5 separate regions of the Homo sapiens genome follow, and regions 1, 3, 4 and 5 are each linked to region 2. Evidence: fine-mapped expression QTL. A gene starts in region 2. Each other region holds a variant in brackets. All regions are shown on one strand. Distances are between the middles of the regions.

Region 1 (5,000 bases), 27 kb after region 2:
GTTGCTACTGGTGTCTTTTTATTATTTGGACAAGTTTTTTTCATGTATACTTTTATCTTTTCTCTCCCCCATCATTCTAATATAGAGTTTAATTGTATCACATTAACTTTCAAATAGCTTATAATTTTACAGGTTGAGAAGGTAACATATGATGCCACAGTTCTCATGGTTTTGTCCACATTCAATTCACCATCTAGAATCATAGATCTTTTTTTGTTTTGTTTTTGAGATGGAGTCTCGCTCTTGTCGCCCAAGCTGGAGTGCAATGGCGCGATCTCAGCTCACTGCAAACTCCACCTTCCAGGTTCAAGCGATTCTCCTGCTTCAGCCTCCAGAGTAGCTAGGATTACAGCCGCCTGCCACTAAGCCCAGCTAATTTTTGTATTTTTAGTAGTGACGAGGTTTCACCATGTTGGCAAGGCTGGTCTCGAACTCCTGACCTCAGGTGATCTGCCCGCCTCGGCCTCCCAAAGTGCTGGGATTACAGGCATGAGCCACCATGCCCAACCTAGAATCACAGATCTTTAGAGAAATGTATGACCAAGGATCCTCTGCCCCCCGATATTTCATTTCCAAATGGGGAAGGGCTCAGGTGGAAGAATGGTGTGCAGCACTACTTTTTCAAACACAACCCCACGGGCATTGTCTGAATTCCATACTTTTCCTGCCCTGTACACAGTGTCACTAATAGCTTTCCTGTCTTTTTTTTTTTTTCTCCCTATCACATCAGCTTGGCTATAAATACTAGTTCCCTAAATTCGATCTTTATTTACTTGCTAACTGTCCACTTCAGTAGGATCTCATCTGCATCAGGCCAGGGATTTTTGTCTATTTTGCTTATTGCTATAGTCATCAAATATAGAATAGCGCCTGGCAAATAGTAAGCATTCAGTAAATATTATGTGAATTGAAAAGAGACGGAAAAACCTCTAAGAAGACTGCCTTTCACCAAGAGATCATTTTCATCAAAAATCATCCCACAGTTCCTTACAGATTCCTCTCTTTTCTGTTCTAAAGTAAGCCCCTCTTCACATATTTCATGAAAATATACACCCACCTCACCCGCTGAAAGTGTCTGTTGAAGTCAAACAGTCCAGAGTTTAAATCTTAACTCAGTTGTCTACTTAGCTATGTGGATCCATAAGTCACATAACATCTATGAACCTGAACCTCAGTTTTGTAATCAGTCATAAATATGATTGACTTGCAGATATGGTATAAGATTTAGAGATAGCCAAGATCGCAAAACCTAGGCATCTGTGAGAGGCTCAAAAGGGAAAGGTAGTTATTGCTATTCCTTTTATTATTACTGGAAAGTATTTTAATGTTCTTAATAAGAACAAGATTTAACTGATTTTTATTAATTACCTACTTATTTGAAGGTGTTTTTTTTAGGCTCTGTCATAGTGATGTTTACTTTTTCCTCTTGAAAGATGCTAGGGTAGAGGCAAATCATCATAATCCAGTTTGATTTGTGGGGGCGCTGGTTTCCCTCTCTTCTTTGGATATAATACTTCAGGGTCTCCACGGAAACTGATAGTGTTTACCAGGATTCCTCCTCCATGTTGAGCCCTGATTTCCAGGTTTTGTCCCCTTGAACCCTTAACAATTTTGAGAACTGCTTTCTTTGCTTCTCAGTATTGAGACCCCACACTTGTGGGTTAGCAAATGCCCCAAAGGGAAAAGCTACACTGGTTGTTGAGCAAACACTTGAGCTTTCCTTTTCTTCAGAACTTATATCTCTTAAGTTCAGGCTGTCTTGATTTTTCTGCAATGCCTTCAGTCAAATTTTGTAAAAAATATTTTCCCTAACTCTTCTTGTTTTTCTCATTGTGAGAGTTGGTCTGTAATAGTGTATCTGCCAATACCATAAGAAAAATCTGTAATATTAATATTTAGAAGTGATATATTATTATTCACAAGTGTTTTTCTCAAAATCATCACTATTTTGAAGCAATAATTCCATATCACCTTTAACGTTTGTAATTTGGTAAATTTCACAAAATATGCTCTGAGACCACAGATTATGCAGCTGAATTTCTAAGTAATGTTGGTCACTCATTGTAATCAATGTGTTTGAAGCCCTTCTATTGTCTTACTATCATTGAACTTCAATTTACATCTGCATTTAAATATCCCATATTTCACCCAAGCCTATTTAAAAAATGGGGTAGTATATTACATACAAGTGAATCAAGGACGATTTGTGATAATATTGACCAGGTTGCCTCTCTGATGCTGGCTGCATAAAAAAGAAGAACCAGCTCTCCTTTGAGATTTGGGGTGAAATGCATCTGTGTGCAGACAACTTTCAGTGCAGATTTGCCTGTACTACTTTATTTATTTAACATGGCTGGCTGACTGTGAGCCCCTCAATGTCAGGCTACATTAGCATGTGTGTACATGTAAAATTAATCAACAGACCCAGCAACTGGCAGCATAGTCCCCCTAGAGCCTGGGGTTAAACATCTGTCTGGAGTGAGGTTTCCTGAAAAGCTTTATATAATGGCCAGAGGAACTCCGAGTAGGCACTTAGTGTGGAAGGAAGGGCAAGACAGATACTTGAGGGGAAGTGCTGGGTTTCAGTGGACTGACAGCCTCGCCATTTTACCCAAAGGTTACAACCTTAGACTCCAAAAGCTTTTAAGGCTTCTTGCTTCTGTATTGCTTGACTGCCTTTAGCATTAAGCACTTATGACCAGGAGATTCTCAGCATATGTCTTTTTCAGCATTTCTCTAATGGAGATGAAAGTGTCTGAATCTTTAAGAAATATTTACCCCATAGATCACAACATTAACTTTGTGATAGGGGGCTGAACTATTTGTTTGTTTTTG[G/T]TTTTTTTCATCCTTTTTTACTGTAAAATAGAACCAGTAGGGTTTAGATCTATTTTGAGGTGGCTTAAAACATCAGCAAGTTTTATTCCTAATATTTGACAAAGTTTGTGATGTGTTAGCAGAAAGCATGGTACAATTGAAAGAACATGAGTTTTGGTTGAATCCTGAGCTCTGCTACTTATTAGCTGTGTGACTGAATCTGTCTCCTTGTTCATTGAATCACACCATGCCATCTCCTTAGGGACATTATCTGTCAATCTAGCTGGGCTTATATGGATTGTGTTCTATTTGGAAGGTGCTCTATAAGCTTTGTCACCCTGGAATGAGACTCAAGAGATCACTCTTATTTGGTTGGTTGTTTGTTACCATAAGTAATATGTTTAAAGAAATTGAGTTCTGTATAGATGCTCTACAAATATACAAATTATTAATAGTGGGGTAAAACAAAACTTGAACAATGGCAAAAATAACTCCTTCCACTTAGCTGTTGAAGATTGCTGAAGAAATGTAGCAAAATTACAACAAATCCATCTTAAGGCAATTTATTTAGAATAGAGACATGCATGGGAGAGTTCCCCCAGGGTGGAAGTGAACAGGTGCATCACCAAGTATCAGTCATTTGAAAGTGAGTTAGCTGTCATGGAGTTGAATCCCGGGGTTTCTTGTTCAATGTCTTTGCATTGAATGTCTGAAGGTGCTCTATTAGTGAAATAAGAAAAAAGTGATTAGGATTTATATGTGTTTCCTTAAATTAGTCTGATTTTAAATAACAGACTTTTTTTTTTGTTTTTTTTAAACCTGAAATGAACTCAATTTATACAGTATATGAGATCAACTGTCTTTCTCTGGGAAATGAATGGACTTGCAGTCAGAAGCTTTGAATTTTAACAATATTCTGCTCCTATCACTTGTGACCTTGGGCATGTTAATTAAACTTCCAGAATATCATCTGCCTCATCTAAAATGTGAATTACAAAAGAGATTAACTTCTCAAAACAGCTTCTTGCTCAGAGAGTAGATGAAGCACAGTGTAATATTTAGATTATTTGCTATCTTGATGGTGAAACAGCTAATTGAAATTTGGGGAGACAGTCACAGTCGGGTACAATTGTTGATCTCAAGAGTAAACGTGGACAGTATAGTTGTTTGTAGAATAATGAACCCACTGCAAATGCCCAATTCCTAATCCCCAGAATCTGTCAATATGCTACCTTACTTTGGGCTTTGTTGAGGTAATCACATTAGGGTTCTGAGATGGGGAGATTATCTTGAATTATCCAAGTGAGCTCAATGTCATCACTTGGGTCCTTAAAAGTGGAAGAGGGAGCCAGAAGAAATCAGAGTGATGCAAAATGAAAAGAAATCAATCTGCCATGGCTAGCTTGATTATAGACGGAAAAAGGAGATCTTGAGCTAAGGAATGTCAGTGGCCTCTAGAACTTGAAAATGCAAGGAAATAGGTCTCCCCTGTAACCTACAAAAAGGAATACAGCACAGCTGACATCTTAATTTTAGTCCAGTGAAGCCAGGTCATGCTTTTAACCTACAAAACCATAAAAAAGTAAAGTTGTGTTGTTTTAAGACATTGAGTTTATGGCAATTTGTTACAGCAAAAATTGAAAACTAATACAAGGCCTAACATGGTGACTAGCATACAGAAGCATCTCTATGATTGAAGGAAGGTTTGGATTTGTTGGGTAAATGAATGAATGAATGAATCAGTATGATAAACATCCATATGGAGCTTTTTGAGGAAAATGGCTAAATGGACCAAGAGCTTTTCACTTTCATGCTTCTTATGCATCCTTTACATTTACAATCAAGATTCTCTTCTTTGGGAAGGGTACCTCGCCCTTAAGAGCCCACCTCTCTGCCTATCAGCACGTATGCATGCTTGCCATAGCAGACATGCTGTGATGCAAATACTAGAGTACGAAGCCATCTTCCTAGAATGGAAGTTGTTGGAGAGAAGGATTTTGTCATCTTCATTTCTCTCTCCCAGTGCTCAGCCCAGACTCCAGCCCAAGTCAGAATGTAATAGATAATGGGTGAAAGAATGAATGGAATGAAGGATGGAAACTGGGAAATGACTGAGGGCTCCATTTGTTCAGGTTTGATCAAATACCTTTGAAAATTGAAGCATATTTGAGTACTAAGGTGCTAGG
Region 2 (5,000 bases):
TAACTGGAGGACCACAATGACGTTTTGGGTTCCCTGGAATCAACGTCAGCTCAGGCCAGTGTACAGTAGTCCCCAAAATGTCTGATCATTTCCCTTTCCCCAATGCACAATTACCCTGGTAAAAGGCCAGATGTCTCTTTGGGGAAGGATGGGAGAAAGATTCACAGCATAAATTGTAAGTAATGTAGTGGGGTTCTTTCTCAAGGGGACCTGGCCTCATCTTCATTTAAGGGGTTCTGGGTCTGTAAACTGGCTCAAGACTGGAAATTGATTGAGGGGCCATGATTCTCTGTTTTTATAATTCAAATTAGTCTTTTGTCCATTCGACCTAGAAGTTTTCTGCTTGTATAAATTAAGCAAAAATGCAGTAGGCTTCCTATTAATTTCACTTCTAGGAACACCATTATTAATTAGCCAATGCCAGAGCTCTACACAAATCAGACTGTTCTGATCGTCACTTTGCCTCTGCTGTCCATTACAGTAGCTATGCCCACCTTGCCTTTGATGGTTGAGTGCCACCACTTGGTCCCTGCCACCTCGGGATCCAATTATTCCCATTGTATTTAAATTTTGTATTGAGTGACTACGGTTCCCACTGTTAGATCTGACATACAGAGAAGGGCAATTACAGGTCTCTTCAAAGATGTAGGTGCTGCCCTCACAAATCTATTTCCCAAGGCATTGATCAAGGGTATATCTTCTGGACCCTGCCAGCTGGGATGAGTAGGTCTAAAGTGAATAATCCACTGTACCATCCCAATCTTCCTAAGCCTTTGGATCCCTTCCTCTACATTAAACCAAAGGAGATCAGGCATTTCTAGCTCACTCGTAGTAGGCCATCTTTTAATCTATATTTTAGCTAAACAAGCAAATAAACTATTAGAACCTTTTTTAACTCCCCCAGCTGAAACATTAAATGAACAATCCCTACTTAGTGGGCCCAAATCAATAAATTCAGCCTGATCCAACTCTATGTTCCTTCAACCATTATCCCACACCCTTAATATCCATTCCCATGCCTGTTCTCCAGATTTCTGTTTAAACTCAAGCAATTCTTTTTGGGTGTAGAACATCTCATGGGTCACACTCTCAACCTCACCTCTAGAGGCTCGCCTGGACTTTAGTCTAGTTATAGGTCTAGAAGGAAACAGGGGTGTTGGAGGTGGCTCCTGAAGATAATCAACTTTACCTTGCCTGGAAACTGCCTCAAGGGAGGCCATCACTGTTGCCTCAGGCAGCACAGGGTTTATCTCCTCAGACAAAGGTGGAAAGGCTGATGGCAGTGTGGGTCAGGGAGGGGATATTGTCTCTACTGGGGATGGGGAAGCTGTTTCCTCTGGCCGAAAAGTTTCATCAGAGTTTACAAACTCAGTGTCCCCAGCTTCATTAGGGTCCTCCCACACGTCCCCATTCCAAGTTGCAGGGCCCCATTCTTTTCTAATCAAAGCGCTCACTTTAACAGTGGACACCTGGTGAGGCTGTGCATGCATCTTTCATTACAGGTCAGCCTACATGATAAGGGTTTGTGTCTGTTTTTCCACAATTTCAGCTCTTTCTCTACAGGAAGATAAGACTCTCACTCAGGGCAGTCTTAGCAGATTTGAGGCTCAGTATCTGCTTCTGAGGCCGGGAGATAGAATCCCTGAGTTCATTATTTTCTTTCATCACTTTTTCCACTGAACTTAGGAGCAACCAACCAGCTTCATTATGTTCCTTGGTTCTCCACATATGGTCAAAGGTATTACATGTAGAGTCACTAAAATCCTTGCCTCTCAGGAGCGATGAATCAGGAGTGTCAAATGCATTTATTTTGCATATTTCTCGAACAGTTCATGCCAAGGATTATCAGTGTTCTCCATGCTATTAGAAGTAGAGTTCTTAGCATTTTTGGCGTCTAATATTAAGCAGCCAACACCAGAAATTCCAAAACCAATGAAAGAACTACATCCTTAATATTCTGTTCCTCTAGAAGACCACTTCTGGTACCAACATCTGTATCAGGGTTCTCTAGAGGGAAAGAACTAATGGAACACACATATATACATAAAGGGGAGTTTATTAAGTATTAACTCACACAATCACAAGGTTCCACAATAGGCTGTCTGCAGGCTGAAGAGTAAGAAGAGCCAGTCTGAGTTCCAAAACTGAAGAACTTGGAGTCGGATGTTCCAGGGCAGGAAGCATCCAGCACAAGAGAAAGATGTAGGCTGGGAGACTAGGCCAGTCTCTCTTTTCCATTTTTCTGCCTGCTTATATTCTAGCCACCTGGCAGCTGATTAGATTGTGCCACCCAGATTAAGGGTGGGTCTGCCTTTCCCAGCCCACTAACTCAAATGTTAATCTCCTTTGGGAACACCCTCACAGACACACCCAGGATCAATACTTTGTATCCTTCAATCCAGTCAAATTGACACTCAGTATTAACCATCACATATGTCTTTGCTATTGTGAGTAGTGTGGCAATGTACATACAATAGCATGTGTTTTTTCCAGTATGATGACCTAAATTCCTTTCGTTATATACCCAGTAATGGTGAGGGACTAAGTGGCTAAGTTGGCTGGACTTCCTGGGTCAATAGGGACTTCCCTAAGGGGACTATCCCCTAAACCCAAATAAGTCACAGCTGCAAGCTAAGGGATTTAAACTTCAACCAATCAAAGGGGACTTTCCCCTAAGCCAAAATGAGTCACAGCTGCAAGCTAAGGGATTGAAACTTCAACCAATCATATAGGGAGTTTAAGGTCTAGCTACAGCCTGATGTTTTTAACCAATCAGGCCCATCAACCCACAAGTGGGTTGAAAATAAGCTAATTGTATAGGACAGAAAAAGGAAAAGGGGAGGGGTCATAAGGCGATATAAGCATAAGACACCCAAGCCAGAAACAGCAACCCTTCTGGGTCCCCTTCCACCACGCAGAAGCTTTACTTTCGCTTTCACTTTACTTTTGCTTTCACTTTAACAAATCTTGCAGCCGCACACTCTTTGGGTCCGCCCGTTTCTCTAATCAAGTTGTAACACTCGCTGCTGTGGTCCACAGCTTCATTCCTTGAAGCCCGTGAGACACGAACGCTTCCATTGAGAAAAACCTTCCATCAGAAGAAGACTTCTCGTCTCAGTGGGACTGCTGAGTTGAATGGTACCTCTGTTTTAAGTTCTCTGAAAAGTCTCCAAACTGCTTTTTATAGTGGCTGAACTAATTTTCATTCTCACCAACAGTGTATAAATGTTCCTTTTTCTCTAGACTCGCCAGCATATGTTGTTTTTTGACTGTAGAGTAATAGCCATTGTAACTGGTTTAAGATGATATAGCATTGTGGTTTTGATTTGCATTTCCCTGATGATTAGTGATGACAAGCATTCTTTCATGTTCGTTGGCCGCTTGTATGTCTTCTTTTAAGAAGTGTCTGTACATGTCCTTTGCCCATTTTTTAATGTATTCTGTTTTTTGCTTGTTGTAAGTTCCTTACAGATTCTGGATATTAGGCATTTGTTGGATGCATAGTTTGCAAATATTTTCTCACATTCTGTAGGTTTTCTGTTTACTCTATTGGTAGTTTCTTTTGCTGTGCAGCAGCTCTTTAATTAGGTCCCACTTGTCAATTTTTGTTTTTGCTGCAATTGTTTTTGGGGACTTAGCCAAATTTTCTTTGCCAAGGCCAGTGTTGAGAAGGATATTTCCTAGGATTTTTATAGTTTGAGAGCGTACATTTGAGTCTTTAATTCATCCTCAGTTAATTTTTGTATCTGGTGAAAGGTAGGGATCCAGTTTCAATCTTCTGCATACTAACCAGTTATCCCAGCACCATTTATTGAATAGAGTGTCCTTTCCTTGTTGCTTGTTTTTGTTGGCCTTGTTGAAGATTGGATGGTTGTATAGTCACAGTTTACCTTGTATCTGGGATCTCCTAACCTCCTAAATAATTTTTTAAAAATTTTCATACATTACGGTTAAGTTTTTGTGCTCTAGACTTTTATGGGTTTTGATAAATGCATAATATCATCTATCCACCATTGCAGTATCATACAGAATAGTTTCACCACTCTAGGCAATCTCTTGTGCTTCACCTACTCAAATCTGTGTCTGTGAACCTCTAGAAACCACTGATATCTTTATTTTCTTTATTTTTTCATTTTTAGAGACAGGGTCTTGCTTCGTTTCCCAGTCTGGAGTGCAGTGGCACCATATATATGGCTCACTGCCACCTTTACTTCCTGGGCTCAAAGGATCCTCCTGCCTCAGCCTCCCAAGTAGCTGGGACTACAGGTGTGCACCACCATGCCCAGCTAATTTTTAATTTTTTTTGTAGAGCCAGGGTCTTGCCATCTTGCCCAGGCTGCTTTCAAATGATATCTTTACCCTCTCTATAAGTTTGCTTTTTCCAGAATGTAATATAATCATGCAGTATGCAGCAGTCCTTTCATGCTGGCTTCTTTCATTTAGCAATACACATTTAAGAATCATCTATGTCCTTGTACAGCTTGATAGCTCATTCTTTCCTATCTCTGAATAGTATTTCATTGTATGGATATACCAGAGTTTATTCATTTCTGTGTTGAAGAACATCTTGATAGCTTTCAGTTTTTGGTGATAATTTTATAAAATTCTATAAACATTCATGTGAAAGTTTTCTGTAGTTAAAATTTCTCAAATCATCTAGGTAAATATCTAAGAACCCAGCTGCTGGATTACAAGGTAAAAATATGTTTAGCTTTGTTAGAAACTGCTAAGTTATCCATCAGAGTGGTTGTACCATTCTGCATTTTCTCCGGTGATGAATGAGAGTTCTTGTTGCTCCTCATCCTAACCAGTATTTAGTATTAGCATATTTTGGTTTTTAGCCCTCTTAATACATGTACAATGTTATCTCATTATTATTTTAATTTTTATATACCTAATGACAACCAATGTTGAGCATCTTTACATGTACTTATTTGCCATATATATGGTGGTATCTGTTTAGAACTTTTGCTTACTTTTTAATTGAGTTGTATTTTATT
Region 3 (5,000 bases), 200 kb before region 2:
GTGCAGAATATGAAAGGCATATTTAGAGTCACTATAAATATTGATACATAGTCCTTTTGCAAGAGTGAGGGCTTGAGTTAAGGCAACTAGTTTGGCTTGCTGAGAGGTAGTGGAGGGGGGCAGAGCGGTTACCTCAATGACAGATGTGGAAGATACTGTAGCATAGCCTGCCTTTGCTGCTGAGTGGCGATTAGGCCTGGCGGAACTGCCATCAATAATCTAAATGTGATAAGGGCGAGGAACAGGAAAGAAGGAAATATGGGGAAATGGAGTGAATGTCAGGTGGATCAGAGAAATACAGTCATGAGGGTCAGGTGTGGTATCCAGAATAATGTGGGAGGCCAGATTGAAGTCCATGCCAGGAACGATGGTAATTGTGGGAGACTCAACAAAGAGTGAGTATAGCTGAAGGAGTTGGGGAGCAGAAAGTATATGCGTCAGGTATGAGGAAGAAAATAGATTTTGGAAGTTATGAGAAATGTAGAGAGTGAGTTGAGCATAGTTTGTGATTTTTAGGGCCTCTAAAAGTATTAAAGCAGTGGCAGCCGCTGCATGCAGATATGAGGGCTAGGCTAAAACAGTAAGGTCAAGTTGTTTGGACAGAAAGGCTACAGGGTGCGGTCCTGGCTCTTGTGTAAGAATTCTGACCGCGCTAACCATGCCTAGGAAGGAAAGAAGTTGTTGTTTTGTAAGGGATTGAGGTTTGGGAGATTAGTCAGACACTATCAGCAGGGAGAGCACGTGTGTTTTTATGAGAATTATGCCGAGATAGGTAACAGATGAGGATGAAATTTGGGCTTGACTGAAGTAATGGGGGCTGTCTGTGAAGCCTTGTGGCAGTACAGCCCAGGTGATTTGCTGAACCTAATGGGTGTCAGGGTCAGTCCAAGTGAAAGCGAAGAGAGGATGGGATGAAGGGTGCAAAGGAATAGTAAAGAAAGCATGTTTGAGATCTAGAACAGAATAATGGGTTGTGGAGGGAGGTATTGAGGTTAGGAGAGTATATGGGTTTGGCACCACAGGGTGGATAGGCAAAACAATTTGGTTGATAAGGTGCAGATCCTGAACTAACCTGTAAGCCTTGTCTGTTTTTTATGACAGGTAAAATGGGGGAATTGTAAGGAGAGTTTATAGGCTTTAAAAGGCTATGCTGTAACAGGTGAGTGATAACAGGCTTTAATCCTTTTAAAGTATGCTGTGGGATGGGATATTGGCATTGAGCAGGGTAAGAGTGATTAGGTTTTAATGGGATGGTAAGGGGTGCATGATCGGTCACTAAGGAGGGAGTAGAGGTGTCTTATACTTGTGGGTTAAAGTGGGGAGATACAGGGGAGGATGTGAAGGAGGCTTTGAACTGGGGGAAAAGGCAGCAATGAGGTGTGGCTGTAGCCCAGGAATAGTCAGGGAAGCAGATAATTTAGTTAAAGGGTCTCAGCCTAATAAGGGAACTGGGCAGGTGGGGATAACTAAAAGGAGTGCTTAAAAGAGTATTGTCTAAGTTGGCACCAGAGTTGGGGAGTTTCAAGAGGTTTAGAAGCCTGGCCATCAATACCCACAACAGTTATAGAGGCAAGGGAAACAGGCCCTTGAAAAGAAGGTAATGTGGAGTGGGTAGCCTCCGTATTGATTAAGAAGGGGACGGACTTACCTTCCACTGTGAGAGTTACCTGAAGCTCGGCGTCTGTGATGGTCTAGGGGGCTTCCGAAGCAATCAGGCAGTGTCAGTCTTCAGCTGCTAAGCTAAGAAGATCTGGGAAGGAGTCAGTCAGAGAGCCTTGGGCCAGAGTTCCAGGGGCTCCAGGAGTGGCTGCCAGGTGAGTTGAACAGTCCGATTTTCAGTGGGCTCCCGCACAGATGGGACATGGCTTAGGAGGAATCCTGG[T/G]CTGCAGGCATTCCTTGGCCTGGTGGCCAGATTTCTGGCACTTGTAGCAAGCTCCTGGGGGAGGCGGGCCTGGAGGACCACCTGGCCACTGCGGTTTAGGTGTTTGGAAGTTCTTGTGTGCTGGAGACATGGCTGGGGTTTGTCTCACAGTGGAGGCAAGGAATTGCAACTCAGAAATATGTTGCTACTTGGCTGCCTCTACTCTACTATTGTACACCTTGAAGGCAAGGTTAATTAAGTCCTGTTGTGGGGTTTGAGGCCCGGAATTTAATTATTGGAGTTTTATTTAATGTCGGGAGTGGATTGGGTAATAAAATGTATATTGAGAATAAGATGGCCTTTTGACCTTTTAGGGTCTAGGGCTGTAAAGCATGGCAGGGTTGCTGCCAAACGAGCCATGAACTGGGCTGAGTTTTTATATTTGATGAAAAAGAGCCTAAATGCTATCTGATTTGGGATAAAGAAAAAGGAGCATTAACCTTGACTATGCCTTTAGCTCCAGCCACCTTTTTAAGAGCAAATTGCTGGGCAGGTGGGGGAGGGCTAGTCACGAATGAAACTGTAAGCCAGACCGAGTGTGAGGAGGGGAGTTGATAAAAGGATTATAGGATGGAGGAGCGGAGGCTGAGGAAGCATTGGGACCTAGCTCAGCCTGGAGAGGAGGGGAGAGGTCAGATGGGTCTGTAGAAAAGAAGGATTAGAAAGACTCAGCGACACTTGGGGTTGGGACTGAGGGGACAGGCGGGAGGGAAAAACGAAAGATTTGGGAGGAGTGGCATTGGGAACAGAGACTAGGGAGGGACCGATGTGTAAAAGAATGCCTGGACATCAGGCACCTCAGACCGTTTGCCCATTTTATGACAAGAATTATTTAGATCTTTTAGGATGGAAAAATTGAAAGTGCTGTTTTCTGGCTATTTGGAACCACTGTCAAGTTTGTATTGGGGTCAAGCAGCATTGCAGAAGAAAATAAGGCATTTAGGTTTTAGGTCAGGTGTGAGTTGAAGAGGTTTTAGGTTTTTAACAACACAGGCTAAGGGAGAAGAAGGGAGAATGGAGGGAGAATGGAGGGTGGAAGCTTGCCCGTAGTGAAGGAGGGAAGCCCAGAGAAAAGAGACAATAGAGACACGGAGAGAAGGGCTGGGGGTTCTTGCCTCCCAGAAAAGTGGAGAAGGGGTAGAGACACGGAGATAAGGGGTTGGGGGTTCTTGCCCCCAGAAAAGGGGTACTTGCCGCTAAGGGTGAAGAAGGGGTTGGGGGTTCTTGCCCCCAGAAAAGTGGAGAAGGGGTAGAGACACGGAGATAAGGGGTTGGGGGGTTCTTGCCCCCAGAAAAGTGGTACTTGCCGCTAAGGGTGAAAGACCAAGGCAGGCGTTCCGGCGTGGTCAGACACCTCTGAAACGTGGGTGAATAATCAGGCAGGTGTCCCCGTGTGATTAAACACCAAGGGAAGACTGTTTTCCCAAGTCCGTGACCGGTGCCGGAGTTTTGGGTCCACGGATAAAACGTGTCTCCTTCATCTCTGCCAGAAAAGGAAAGGAACTGAAATTAAGAGAAGGGAGAGATTGAAGTGTGGCGCCAAGATTGAAAGGAGAAAGAGGTTGAGGGATAGTGAGAGAGGTTGGAGAAGAGAGTAAAAAGAGACCGCTTACCTGATTTAAAATTGGCGAGATGTTCCCTGGGCTGGTTGGTCTGAGGACCAGAGGTCGTAGGTGGATCTTTCTCACGGAACAAAGAGCAGGAGGACAGGGGATTGATCTCCCAAGGGAGGTCCCCCGATCCGAGTCATGGCACCAAATTTCACTCGCGTCAATTTGAAGAGACCACCAAACAGGCTTTGTGTGAGCAACAAGGCTGTTTATTTCACCTGGGTGCAGGCAGGCTGAGTCCGAAAAGAGAGTCAGCGAAGGGAGATAGAGGTGGGGCCATTTTATAAGATTTGGGTAGGTAAAGGAAAATTACGGTCAAAGGGGGGTTGTTCTCTGGTGGGCAGGAGTGGGAGTCACAAGGTGCTCAGTAGGGGAGCTTTTGAGCCAGGATGAGCCAGGAGAAGGAATTTCACAAGATAATGTCATCAGTTAAGGCAGGAACAGGCCATTTTCACTTCTTTTGTGGTGGAATGTTATCAGTTAAGGCAGGAACCGGCCGTCTGGATGTGTACGTGCAGGTCACAGGGGATATGATGGCTTAGCTTGGGCTCAAAGGCCTGGCAATAACAATGGAATATTTCCCATTAGATTTAAGGATTAGGAATGATTGATGACTTCATCAGGTCGTTTTCAAGGAGACACAGCAAATTTTCAGCAATTTAAGAAGTGAAAAAGAGAGATACCATGTATTGAGCTCTGTTTTGATAAGCTGAGGAATGATAAAAGAAAATGTGATAGGGCAATAGCCAAAGAGGATACAACACAGTATACAATGCATACAATAAAGTATTATTGAATATTTTATTTTTGTTTTGTAGTACTTGTATATTCTTAGGGGAATGATCCAGTGGAAGGCAGTAAAGAAACCTCCCTGAGAAAGGAGTGTGTGATCGAAGTTATTTTTAATCAAGATGAGTTATAGGTATTAGGAAATAAAGGTGATATTAATAGGATAGTCTTTGAACCATTGAACTATGGATGGAGTACTTTGAACTATGAATAAAAGCAAGCTTTTAAATGAAGGAGTGAGATAACTTTTTTCTTCTGTAAATTCAGAAACTAGGTAATCTATTGTGATGTGGTGATGGGGAGGAGACTTAGAAGAAATATATGCATATTTGTAAGAACTACTTGTGAATGTGAAGCACTTGACCAAGTGCATGCAACAGGATGTCTGTGCCATGTTCAGGGCCCACCTCAGGTCAAATATCATAATTTTTATTAAGGGCTGAATAATTTTTCTCATAGATGAAGAAATTTCAAAAAATGGGGTAGTTTGATGCAGACACAAGGAATTTCAGTTTGAATAAAATTGCAGACTATGTGCGAAGGGTAGAGAGGTGTTACTATATAAGTTTGTAAGTAATGAATTTCCAACTTGGAAGTAATGATCTCAAATAAGGAGGTCTGTGGTAAACATAAAACAAAGGCCACAAGGAGCAGATTTGATAGCTGAGAAGTGAGTGGTA
Region 4 (5,000 bases), 8.8 kb after region 2:
ATTCTCTTCAATTTGTTATTATTTAGTTGAGAAATTTTGCTTCTGTTCTTAAAGGATATTGGTCAGTAGTTTTCTTTTCTCTTAATGTCTTTATCTGCTTTTGGTAGGAGGGAAATGCTGATATTATGTAATAAGTTAGGAAGTGGCCCTTCTGTTTCTGTTGTGGAGAAACGGCATTATTTGTTTCCTAAGTGTTTGGTAGAATTCATTAACTGAAACCATCTGTTTCTCAGGCTTTCTTTTTTTAAAGTTATGAAATATTGATTGAATTTATTTAATAAATACAGGACAATTCTCATTTTCCTTTGTATAAATTTTGATAGTTTGTCTTTCAGGAGGTTTAGCTATTTAAGCTTTGTTATCAAATATGTTAGCATAACATTGTTCATTATAATCTTTTTTTTATTCTTTTCATGTCCATGGGTTCAGTAGTAATGACTCTTTTATTTCTGATATTGATAATTTCTGTCTTCTCTTTTTTATCTTGGTTAGCCTGGCTATAATTTTGTCAACTTTACTGAACTTTGCAAAGAAAAATATTTTGGTTTGTTTGATTTTTATCTATTATTTCTCTCCTTTTGATTTCTGTTACTTCTGCTCTAATCTTTATTAATTCTTTTATTCTGCTTGTTTTAGGTTAAGTTGCCCTTATTTCTATGGTTTCTTATAGTAGAAAGGTTATTGATTGTAGATATTTCCTCTATTCCAAGATATGCATTTAATTCTATGAATTTTGAAGCACTATTTTCACTGCATTCTCAAGTTTAATAATTGCATTTTAATTTTCCTTTATTTTAAACTATGTAAATGTTCTCTTGAGACTTTTTATTTGACCCATATGGTATTTAGAAGTATATTATATAATTTTCAGATACTTGGAAATTTCTCAGCTAAATTTCTGTTATTGACTTGTAGTTTTGACTGCACCTGTTATCTAAGATTAAACTTCATATTATTCTTATTTTTTAATAAGTATTTTTGATTCTTCTTTCCATTCCTTATGATGTTGCTAGCATTCATTTCTTTTATTCATATGCTTGAATCACCAAATAAATTGTTATTATTACTTTAAACAAATAGTTACTTTTTTGGTCATTTAAGAAAAAGTAAAACAAAATATTTTATTTTATCTTTATTTATTTATTCCTATCTTTTCTAGATACACATTTCTGACATAGCATTTCCTTCTGTTTGAAGAACATCTTTTAACATTTCATGCAGGAAGTTCTGCTGCCAATAAAATTCTTTATTTCTTCTTCACTCTTCAAGGATAATTTTGCTGATTATAGAATTTTAGTTTGGTAGTTTCTTTAAATATTTTAAGTATTTCACTTTACCCTCTTCTTGCTTGTGTGATTTTCGATAAGCCTGCTTTTATCCTTAAAATTGTTCCTCTATAGGTAAGTTTTTTGTTTTTGTTTTAGATCTGGCTACTTTCAAGTTGTTCTTCCTATCTTTAGTTTTCTGCAGTTTGAATTTTATATGCTTTGGAGGAGTGTGTATGTGTGTGTGTGTGTGTGTGTGTGTGTGTGTGTGTGTGTGCATTTATTTATTTATTTTTCCTGCTTTTTGTTTTTTGAATGTCCTTGATTTGTGGCTTAGTGTTTGCCGTTAATGTTTTAGATTTCTTGGTCATTATTACTTCAAATCTTATTCCTTCATTCTCTTTCTTTTCCTTCAAATAATATGCATATGATGCCTTTTAAAATTATACTGCAATTTATTTTTAGCTTGTTTTTGGTTTTTCTTTTATTACAATTTTTGAATGTTCTGTCTTTTTTTGTACTACTTTTCCCTTCGCATATATTTTGAGAATTCTCTCTAACAGCCTATTTTTAACCTCGCTGATTCTTTTCTGAGTTATTTGGAGTCTACTAATGAGCAATAAAAGGCACCTCTTCTTTTTCCTGTTAAGTATTTTCCTATTTCTAGTATTTCCTTTTGATTATATGCAATTTTGATAGTCTCAGCTTTGGCTCACAGAAACATCAATTGTCTTTCTATGGGAGCAGAAACTTGAATGAGAGTCCCATTAAGTCAACAAGTAGATAATTTCAAATTTCTAGATTTTTGAAATTATGACATTTGACATTCAACCAGTTAAATTATTTTTCTGAATCTATTATTTGGTCCGTCTAAATATGTTCTCATACCTGACTTAGTAGAAAGTAGAATTTAATTTTGATTGCATATTTAGTGCTAAGACACGTGTAGAACGACAACATATGCTAAAGCCTAAATTTTATAGTCAGGAGTGGCCATTTGTATCAGGATCAAGCATATAATGAGAATTACTCACATTGAAGTGTAGGAAATCAGAGCACCCGTATCTTTGATTCATTCTCAAGACCAAGTCAACTGGATCTAACATGAATATCAGGTGATGAAATAAAAGTGTGGCAAAATGTGAGCTAAAGACATTCTTATGGGCCGACATTGCTGTTATTCTGCTGTTAAAGCTAAGAACTCCTGCCTTGATGGATCATCTTTCTACAGATTAAAGTATAGTGTAAAGTCCATTTTTGTGTAGACTAAAGTACATTGTAAACAATAGTATCTGGTGATTGGTAAAGAATAGGCAAAGCCTACTTCAAGCCTTTCTTGAAGAGTGCCAATCATAAAAACAATATAGATACATAAACCATGTGAGCAATTCTAAATACTAATATCCCATGTTACAGTATGTAACATTTTAAACAAGTGCTGTACTTCAATATGATTCATTATACTCACCAAATGCTCTAGATAAATATATGTAAACAGTTTTGCCCATCATTCCTCCAAAATTCTCCTTTCAGCTCAGAGTGCACTGTTTAACAATCAAAGTTCCTCAAAGCATTGCCTTATGAAAAGGTTAGCATCAGCATGACACATTGGGGAAACTGCAAAAGCAACTTTCAATTGCAGCATTTCATTTCAACACACCACAAA[T/C]TATCGCTCTTTGCTAGGATTTTGAACTGAAGAAAAAAGAAATGTCCAAATACCAAACCTCTAAAATATTTTTGTTTCCTTTGAAATAAGAGGAAGAAAACACTTCCTTGCAACCACTTGAAACAATAATAAGGCAGGTGTAACCATTACAGGGTAAAATTCTTTGTAAAAACTGTCACTAGACACTCAGACTAGGTGTCCTCATGCAGTAACTTGAGAGATCATTGATGCCATTTTTTTAAAGCAACAGCGAAACTTTGGGTCTGACAAACCCCATTCTTTTCTCAAAAATTCAACTGCGTAATAAGATGGCACTGCCTCTATACATCCATTTAATTTCTGCCAAAGGTATCACAAGCAATTTGCTCTCTAATGAAAATCATGAAAGGACTGTGTCTCATTTTGCAGGCAATTTTTAGTAAAAACCACAAGGGACTGGCATACTGGCATCTTATTTTCAGCTGGTAGGATTAGTTTGTTGAAAAAAAATGTAGAATGCTGAGATTGGAGAGTGGACAGAACTAACAGAGCCCTGGAGAGGAAGCCATTGTGCTCAATTATTGTTTGTGGAATGAATGAGTGAATGAATGACCAAACTATGAAAATCCCCAAAAGGATGTTTGCTGCAATGTTTAAATTAAATCCTCAAGTTGATTTTTTTTAAAAAAATATAACCATGAGGGAGATACCAATGAAGTCACAGCTTGTAAGGTATAATTCTCATTTTATGGTGTCAAATGAGATGGCACCAATGGGAAAATCATTCTGTCATTTAATGAATATATATTAAGTCCATACTGGGTTCCAGGAAATGTACTAGGTTTGTGAGGCACATTTAATAACACTACATATATTGCCCTTCCTTCAGAGAGCTGCAGTATAGTGGAAGAGGTAGGCATTCATCAAATAATCTCTTACAAATACCATTAGAACTTGTGATTAGTACTTTGGAAGAACAGTATAGGGAACTGTGGGACTATGAGGGTAGGTGTGGGGTCTGTCATCTGATTGGGGAAGTGGGGAAGAATGCCATCCTTGAATATATGTGCTGGAGCTAATATATGCAGTTTGAAAAGGCATTAACTATAGTAGGGAGTAGGAAGGCTCATTAGTCTGCTTTCATGGTGCTTATAAAGACGTACCTGAAACTGCAAAGAAAAAGAGGTTTAATGGACTTACAGTTCCACATGGCTGGGGAGGACTCACAGTCATGGTGGAAGGCAAGAAGGAACAAGTCGTGTCTTACATGGATGGCAGGAGGCAAAAAGAGAGCTTGTGCAGGGAAACTCCTGTTTTTAAACCATCAGGTCTCGTGAGATTCATTCACTATCATGAGAACAGCACAGGAAAGACCTGCCACCATAATTCAATCACCTCCTACTGGGTTCCACTCATGACACGTGGGAGTTACAATTCAAGATGAGATTTGGGCGGGGACACAGCCAAACCATATTGGAAGGAAAACGAAGATTCCAAGTCCTGAAGTAGGAGTCATTTTGACTTAGAACAAGTACTTTGTTAAGCTGTGTATAGACTGAACATGTCAAATGGAACCAAGTACAGATGCCCAAGAGTGAGGCAGGCCCAGCATGCCCAGGCTCTGCCTCATTGTCTGAAACAGTGAGACAACCTCAGGCAGACCAGAGGCCAAATCACAGTCCTGCACCACACAAGGGAGCCACTGCTGAGACCTAAGCCAGGTACAACTGTGGCCTCCTACACGGAGGATTTTCAAAATTCCACTTTTAATCCTTACCCATCTTCAGAGCTCATGTGTGAACACATTGGTAACTCTTCCATTTTATTTTATTTTATTTTGATGTGAAGTCCTTCTTTTCTCATAGATTTGCTCCATTTTCTCTATTAGATATCCTGAGAATGGCTCAGTGAGATGTCCTCCCACTTGGTCTGATGGAACACACATCAAATATGCAAATCCATCCATGCAATTTCTCTATCTGAGCTTTTATAATTTTCTATGACTTGAGACAACTCCAGCTTCCTTGTTGGGCATTTGAACCCCTAACAATTTGGCCTCAGCCCGTCTCTTCAGTTTTATGTCTGCAACT
Region 5 (5,000 bases), 89 kb after region 2:
ATTCTACAAACAATGCAGCAATGAAGATATTATTCAATATTCTATCCTACTGCTTGAAGACTGATAGGTTGTGCCACGCTACTGGCTTCTCTCATTTTCCAGCTTGCAGATGAGTTATGTATCTTTCCAAACATATATAGGTAAGAAATCAGATAAGCATGAAATCTGGATCTCCTGAAAGACGATCTTGGAAAATTACTTTCATTTCATCTAGACTGCTCAATGCACAGAAATTTGTAGAAGTATGTTGCATGATTACTTATACCTACTGAGCAAGAGGGCACACAGATTCTCTAGATTAATTAGGATTGGGGGATAGTAGACTTACATAAAAGGATCCAGAAATCAAACCTAAGTCTGATTATAACCATGTGTTTCCCTGTAATCTATATTCCCTGGCAAGGAGAAATTAATGGAAAGAGGGTAGAGTTAAGACATAAATTCTGAATGTTATCTAATGTTTATAGTGTTACTTTATGTGTGTGCACATGTTTGTATGTGTGGGAGAGTGTGAGAGAGAAAGTGTAATGGAGATGGCTTGGAATGTATCTTAGATTCTTCTCTGATGAATTATTCATCTGTTAGAGTTTTAGTGATTGCATCTTTCATAATGTTTGTATAATTGCTTATCTAGGTAGACTTGATTTTTTACACATCTTTGCACAAACATAACTTTGCATATAACTCTGTTTCTGAAAGCACAATATAATGCTGATTTAATTATTTGGCTGGAAGTACTGCCCTTCACCCCAGATAGTGAATATCCTAATGAGAAAAGGAAGTGAGTCTTATTTCATACATGCCACAAGCATTGTGGGGCTTCAATTAATGTGTGTTGAATTAAATTGCTAGAGATGTAACAACTACTTTAGTTTCAGAATAATAAAAGCAAACACTTACCGAACACTGTATGCCAAGCACAATAGTCTAGGTGATATATCTAGAGCATCTAATATCCTCAATAATCCAACCAAATAAGGACTATTATCATCATTCACATTTTCCTGATTAAAAAAATTAGGGTGAGGTAATATGTTCAAGGTTATGCAGGTAGTAAAAAGAAAAATGGAAATTTATACAAAGGCCCAATTCTTATTTGTTTTTCTTGGGAGAAATGAGGCTCATCTCTTTATCTTCAGGTAGTTACTTCCTCTTAATGAATGGAGAAGCAGTGATCTGTGCCATGCTGTTTGTGAAGTACTTAAAAGTACAATCCGAGTCTTATGACAGCCAATCTAGTGATATTTCCACTACTTCATTAAACTCTGACCTACTTGTAGATGACAACACATCTGCCTTGTTGAAAGTCATATCCCAGAACTTGGTATAGTGACACTCATATTGTCTGTAGCCAATAAATATTTTCTGAATTAATGATTGAAACACAATAGAGCTCATTGAAAGTCATATCCCAGAACTTGGTGTAGTGACCATCATATTGTATGTAGTCAATAAATATTTGTTTGCTCAATTAATGATTAAAACACAATAGAGCTCCCTCAATTTCCATAAGAACTTGATCCTAAGTTAAAAGGTAACAATTTAAGACACACCATTGCAGTGTTAAGGCCTCCATCTATAAAACAGCACATTCTTTATTGCCTTGCAGACCAATAATCATTAACAGACTGGATATCAAGTTTGAATAATAATATACTGAGCTAGGTTTTATAAGGACATTAATTCACATGCACAACTACATCAACCCCTGAGGACTTCGTAGAATGTGAATATAGACATTATGTGATTCATGCCTTAGCTAGGCACCTCTGGGGCATGTCATGATGGCCTGCATTCAGCCACAAGTTGGTGAGAAATATTTGGAAACGTCAGAACTAGCAAAGAACATAAAATGTGCAATTGAAAACTCACCCAGAGATTTCAGTGAGGCTAACTCTTCTGAGATCTGCAAGAGGCAGTAAGCCAAACCTCAGCACTGTCTCAGTGATCAGATAAACACGTGTTTGCATGTGACAGTAGCCTATAACAGATGATCTGTGGGAGCCTGCCAGGGAAGGTGACCTGATTAGCACTTGACTGGGTGCTCTTCCCTGCTTTCTGCCCTGGGCCAATTTCTGGTTTTGTTGCTCAGACAGGCTTGCTTCCTTTGTAACACCGGTATGCAGTCACAGTTTGGGTCCATTTATTTCACACTCATCAATTTTTTTAGTGTGTAATGGAAGGCTTCACTTGGAGCACTAAGACGTAGGATGGGCGTAGCAAACCTGTGCACCACACGCAGAAGGTTAAATCAACCTCATTGCCAGGTAAAAATTGAAAATTGTCAGGACCCTAATGCCAACATTTTTTTCTCCCCTGCCTTTTTTTTTCTTTTAAAATTTATCATTGAAATGGAAAAAAAAATGTTTATTTCAATGTGCAGGTATCTTCATCCCTCACTCAGTTTATGACTATCAAGAAGGACAGTTTGAACCATTAAAAGAGAGTTAAAGAAAAATTCTGTAAGCATGGCTTCTATCTATAGCTCTTCCATGAAGTAGCTAGGCACTCTGCCTTGTGTGTAAGGTAACTTCTGCAACATGAGAGATAAATGGTCTCTAGTGGTCTGTTTTATCCTCTATGATTCAATAATTTTTTTGTTTGACTATTATCTTTTATTTTTTTCTGAAAGAATCACTCATTATGCTCAACATAGTAGCCCTACAGAAGAGAAATCTATAATTCCTAGAATCCATACCTCCCACCTTTTCTCATGCTACGTGGAGTTCTGGGGTTTAAGTATGACGTGGTTTGGCTGTGTCTTCACCCAATCCTCACCTT[G/C]AATTATAATAATCTCTATGTGCCAAGGACAGGGCCAGGTGGAGATAACTGAATCATGCAGGTGGCTTCCCTCATACTGTTCTTGTAGTAGTGAATAAGTCTCATGAGATCTGATGGTTTTATACATGGGAGTTCCCGGGCACAAGCTCTCTTGCCTGCCACCATGTAAGAAGTGCCTTTGCTTCTCCTTTGCCTTCCATCATGATTGTGAGGCCTCGTCAGCCATGTAGAACTGTGAGTCAGTTAAAACTCTATCATTTATGAATCACCCATTCTCCAGTATGTCTTTATTAGCAGCATGAAAAAGAACTAATACAAAGTGCTTTGGTGTGTTTGAAATATTTGCTATATACTAAGTATTTTTCAAGTATTAGATCTCTTGTCTGTTTTTTTTCTTATTTTCTTTTTCCCATGTAAGTTTAGCGCAGTGATGTTAAAAAAGTAAAAGTATTAAAAGCTGCTAACATGAACTGCACAATTAGCAACAACTTTGAGACTTTTGCATCTGACCATGCTGTATGATTTTATTAAACCTGCAATCTCACACAAAAAATTTAGAATTCAGGATACGATGTGTTTAAATATAGCTCCTTGAAGGCATCAGAGCATGTCCAAGGAGCCATGACTTGAGAGAACAAGATACCATAGATTAGATAAATTCATTGAAATGAGCCTGATGTTCCCTAATGCTTTTCTTCTTAAAACCAAGGGAATAGCAGATAATGGGTTAAAAATCTAATGAAAAATTTCTGATGGTCTCAGGAAAAGAAGCATTAGAAATGTAGGGCCTACCAAGGAGCAGGGACCCTGGCAAATATCTCTGGGTTTCAGTTTAGTTTCCTGAAAAGTTACTTCTCAGAATAAATGCGAACAAGACTAGGCCAGACCTCACTCAGGCATGAATTATTTCAATTACAGACTTAGTCAAGGTGCTCTTCTAAAAGAACATTATGTATTTTTTTCTCTTGAGGGAGAAAAATACATAATATCTACAGCCTCTACAATGTTTCATACACTCAGCCCAGAATTTACAAAAAAAATTACAGCATGCCTACCGAGAGGTTCAAAAGATTAAAAGTATGCCAAAATACAGACAACAGAAGTATATAGATTATTATCAGTCATTTAACTTTGTCACTTATTAACTTTAAAATAACTATGAGGAAAATGTTCAAGAAAATAAAACACAATGTGAATAGATTTATCAAAGTACTGCAATCTAAAAAATTATGTAATTAAAATATTAGAAGTGATAGCTACAACTAAAATTTTTAATTTAAATGAGCTAAACAGCAAATTAGAAACAATGATAGGTCTTGAATTAATTTTTATATAAGGTGTAAGGAAGGGATCCAGTTTCAGCTTTCTAAATATGGCTAGCCAGTTTTCCCAGCACCATTTATTCAATAGGGAATCCTTTCCCCATTTCTTTTTTTGTCAGGTTTGTCAAAGATCAGATGGTTGTAGATGTGTGGTATTATTTCTGAGGGCTCTGTTCTGTTCCATTGGTCTATATCTCTGTTTTGGTACCAGTACCATGCTGTTTTGGTTACTGTAGCATTGTAGTATAGTTTGAAGTCAGGTAACATGATGCCTCCAGCTTTGTTCTTTTGGCTTCTTAAATGTTAGATCTAAAACCATAAAAATCCTAGAAGAAAACCTAGGCAATACCATTCAGGACATAGGCATGGGCAAGGACTTCATGTCTAAAACACCAAAAGCAATAGCAACAAAAGCCAAAATTGACAAATGGGATCTAATTAAACTAAAGAGCTTCTGCACAGCAAAAGAAACTACCATCAGAGCGAACAGGCAACTTACAGAATGGGAGAAAATTTTTGCAACCTACCCATCTGACAAAGGGCTAATATCCAGAATCTACAAAGAACTCAAACAAATTTACAAGAAAAAAAAACCCCATCAACAAGTGGGCAAAGGATATGAACAGACACTTCTCAAAAGAAGACATTTATGCAGCCAACAGACACATGAAAAAATGCTCATCATCACTGGCCATCAGAGAAATGCAAATCAAAACCACAGTGCAATGCCATTTCACACCAGTTAGAATGGCGATCATTAAAAAGTCAGGAAACAACAGGTGCTGGAGAGGATGTGGAGAAATAGGAACACTTTTACACTGTTGGTGGGACTGTAAACTGGTACAACCATTGTGGAAGACAGTGTGGCGATTCCTCAAGGATTTAGAATTAGAAATA

Which allele goes with the higher level. Alleles are on the strand shown, and positions count from the first base shown. SD is a standard deviation of normalised expression in the study named. Not every link is listed here.
As copies of T replace G in region 3, the expression in subcutaneous fat of the gene that starts at base 2,955 in region 2 goes down (moderate effect, 0.43 SD a copy in GTEx).

The links.
Region 1: its variant is fine-mapped to the expression of LINC02328 in T cells (TOPMed, PIP 0.93).
Region 3: its variant is fine-mapped to the expression of LINC02328 in subcutaneous fat (GTEx, PIP above 0.99).
Region 4: its variant is fine-mapped to the expression of LINC02328 in whole blood (INTERVAL, PIP 0.98).
Region 5: its variant is fine-mapped to the expression of LINC02328 in whole blood (TOPMed, PIP above 0.99). The same link has a PIP of 0.9 or more in blood mononuclear cells.

Annotation. Positions count from the first base shown.
Region 1 is chr14:85,958,411-85,963,410 of GRCh38, forward strand. The region is part of intron 1 of LINC02328 (long intergenic non-protein coding RNA 2328); the gene reads left to right. Among named protein-coding and RNA genes, the nearest start is that of LINC02328, 26 kb to the left of the region's middle. The variant G/T (reference allele first, on the strand shown) is at 2,836.
Region 2 is chr14:85,931,724-85,936,723 of GRCh38, forward strand. It overlaps LINC02328 (long intergenic non-protein coding RNA 2328), which reads left to right and starts at 2,955. Exons shown (of 4, transcript NR_110155.1): 1 at 2,955-3,138. RefSeq lists enhancers at 2,440-2,489, 2,860-3,069.
Region 3 is chr14:85,734,508-85,739,507 of GRCh38, forward strand. No RefSeq gene overlaps it. Among named protein-coding and RNA genes, the nearest start is that of LINC02328, 200 kb to the right of the region's middle. The variant T/G (reference allele first, on the strand shown) is at 1,883.
Region 4 is chr14:85,940,525-85,945,524 of GRCh38, forward strand. All of the region lies in intron 1 of LINC02328 (long intergenic non-protein coding RNA 2328), which reads left to right. Among named protein-coding and RNA genes, the nearest start is that of LINC02328, 8.3 kb to the left of the region's middle. The variant T/C (reference allele first, on the strand shown) is at 2,932.
Region 5 is chr14:86,020,533-86,025,532 of GRCh38, forward strand. The region is part of intron 1 of LINC02328 (long intergenic non-protein coding RNA 2328); the gene reads left to right. The region is part of intron 4 of LINC02316 (long intergenic non-protein coding RNA 2316); the gene reads right to left. Among named protein-coding and RNA genes, the nearest start is that of LINC02316, 40 kb to the right of the region's middle. The variant G/C (reference allele first, on the strand shown) is at 2,782.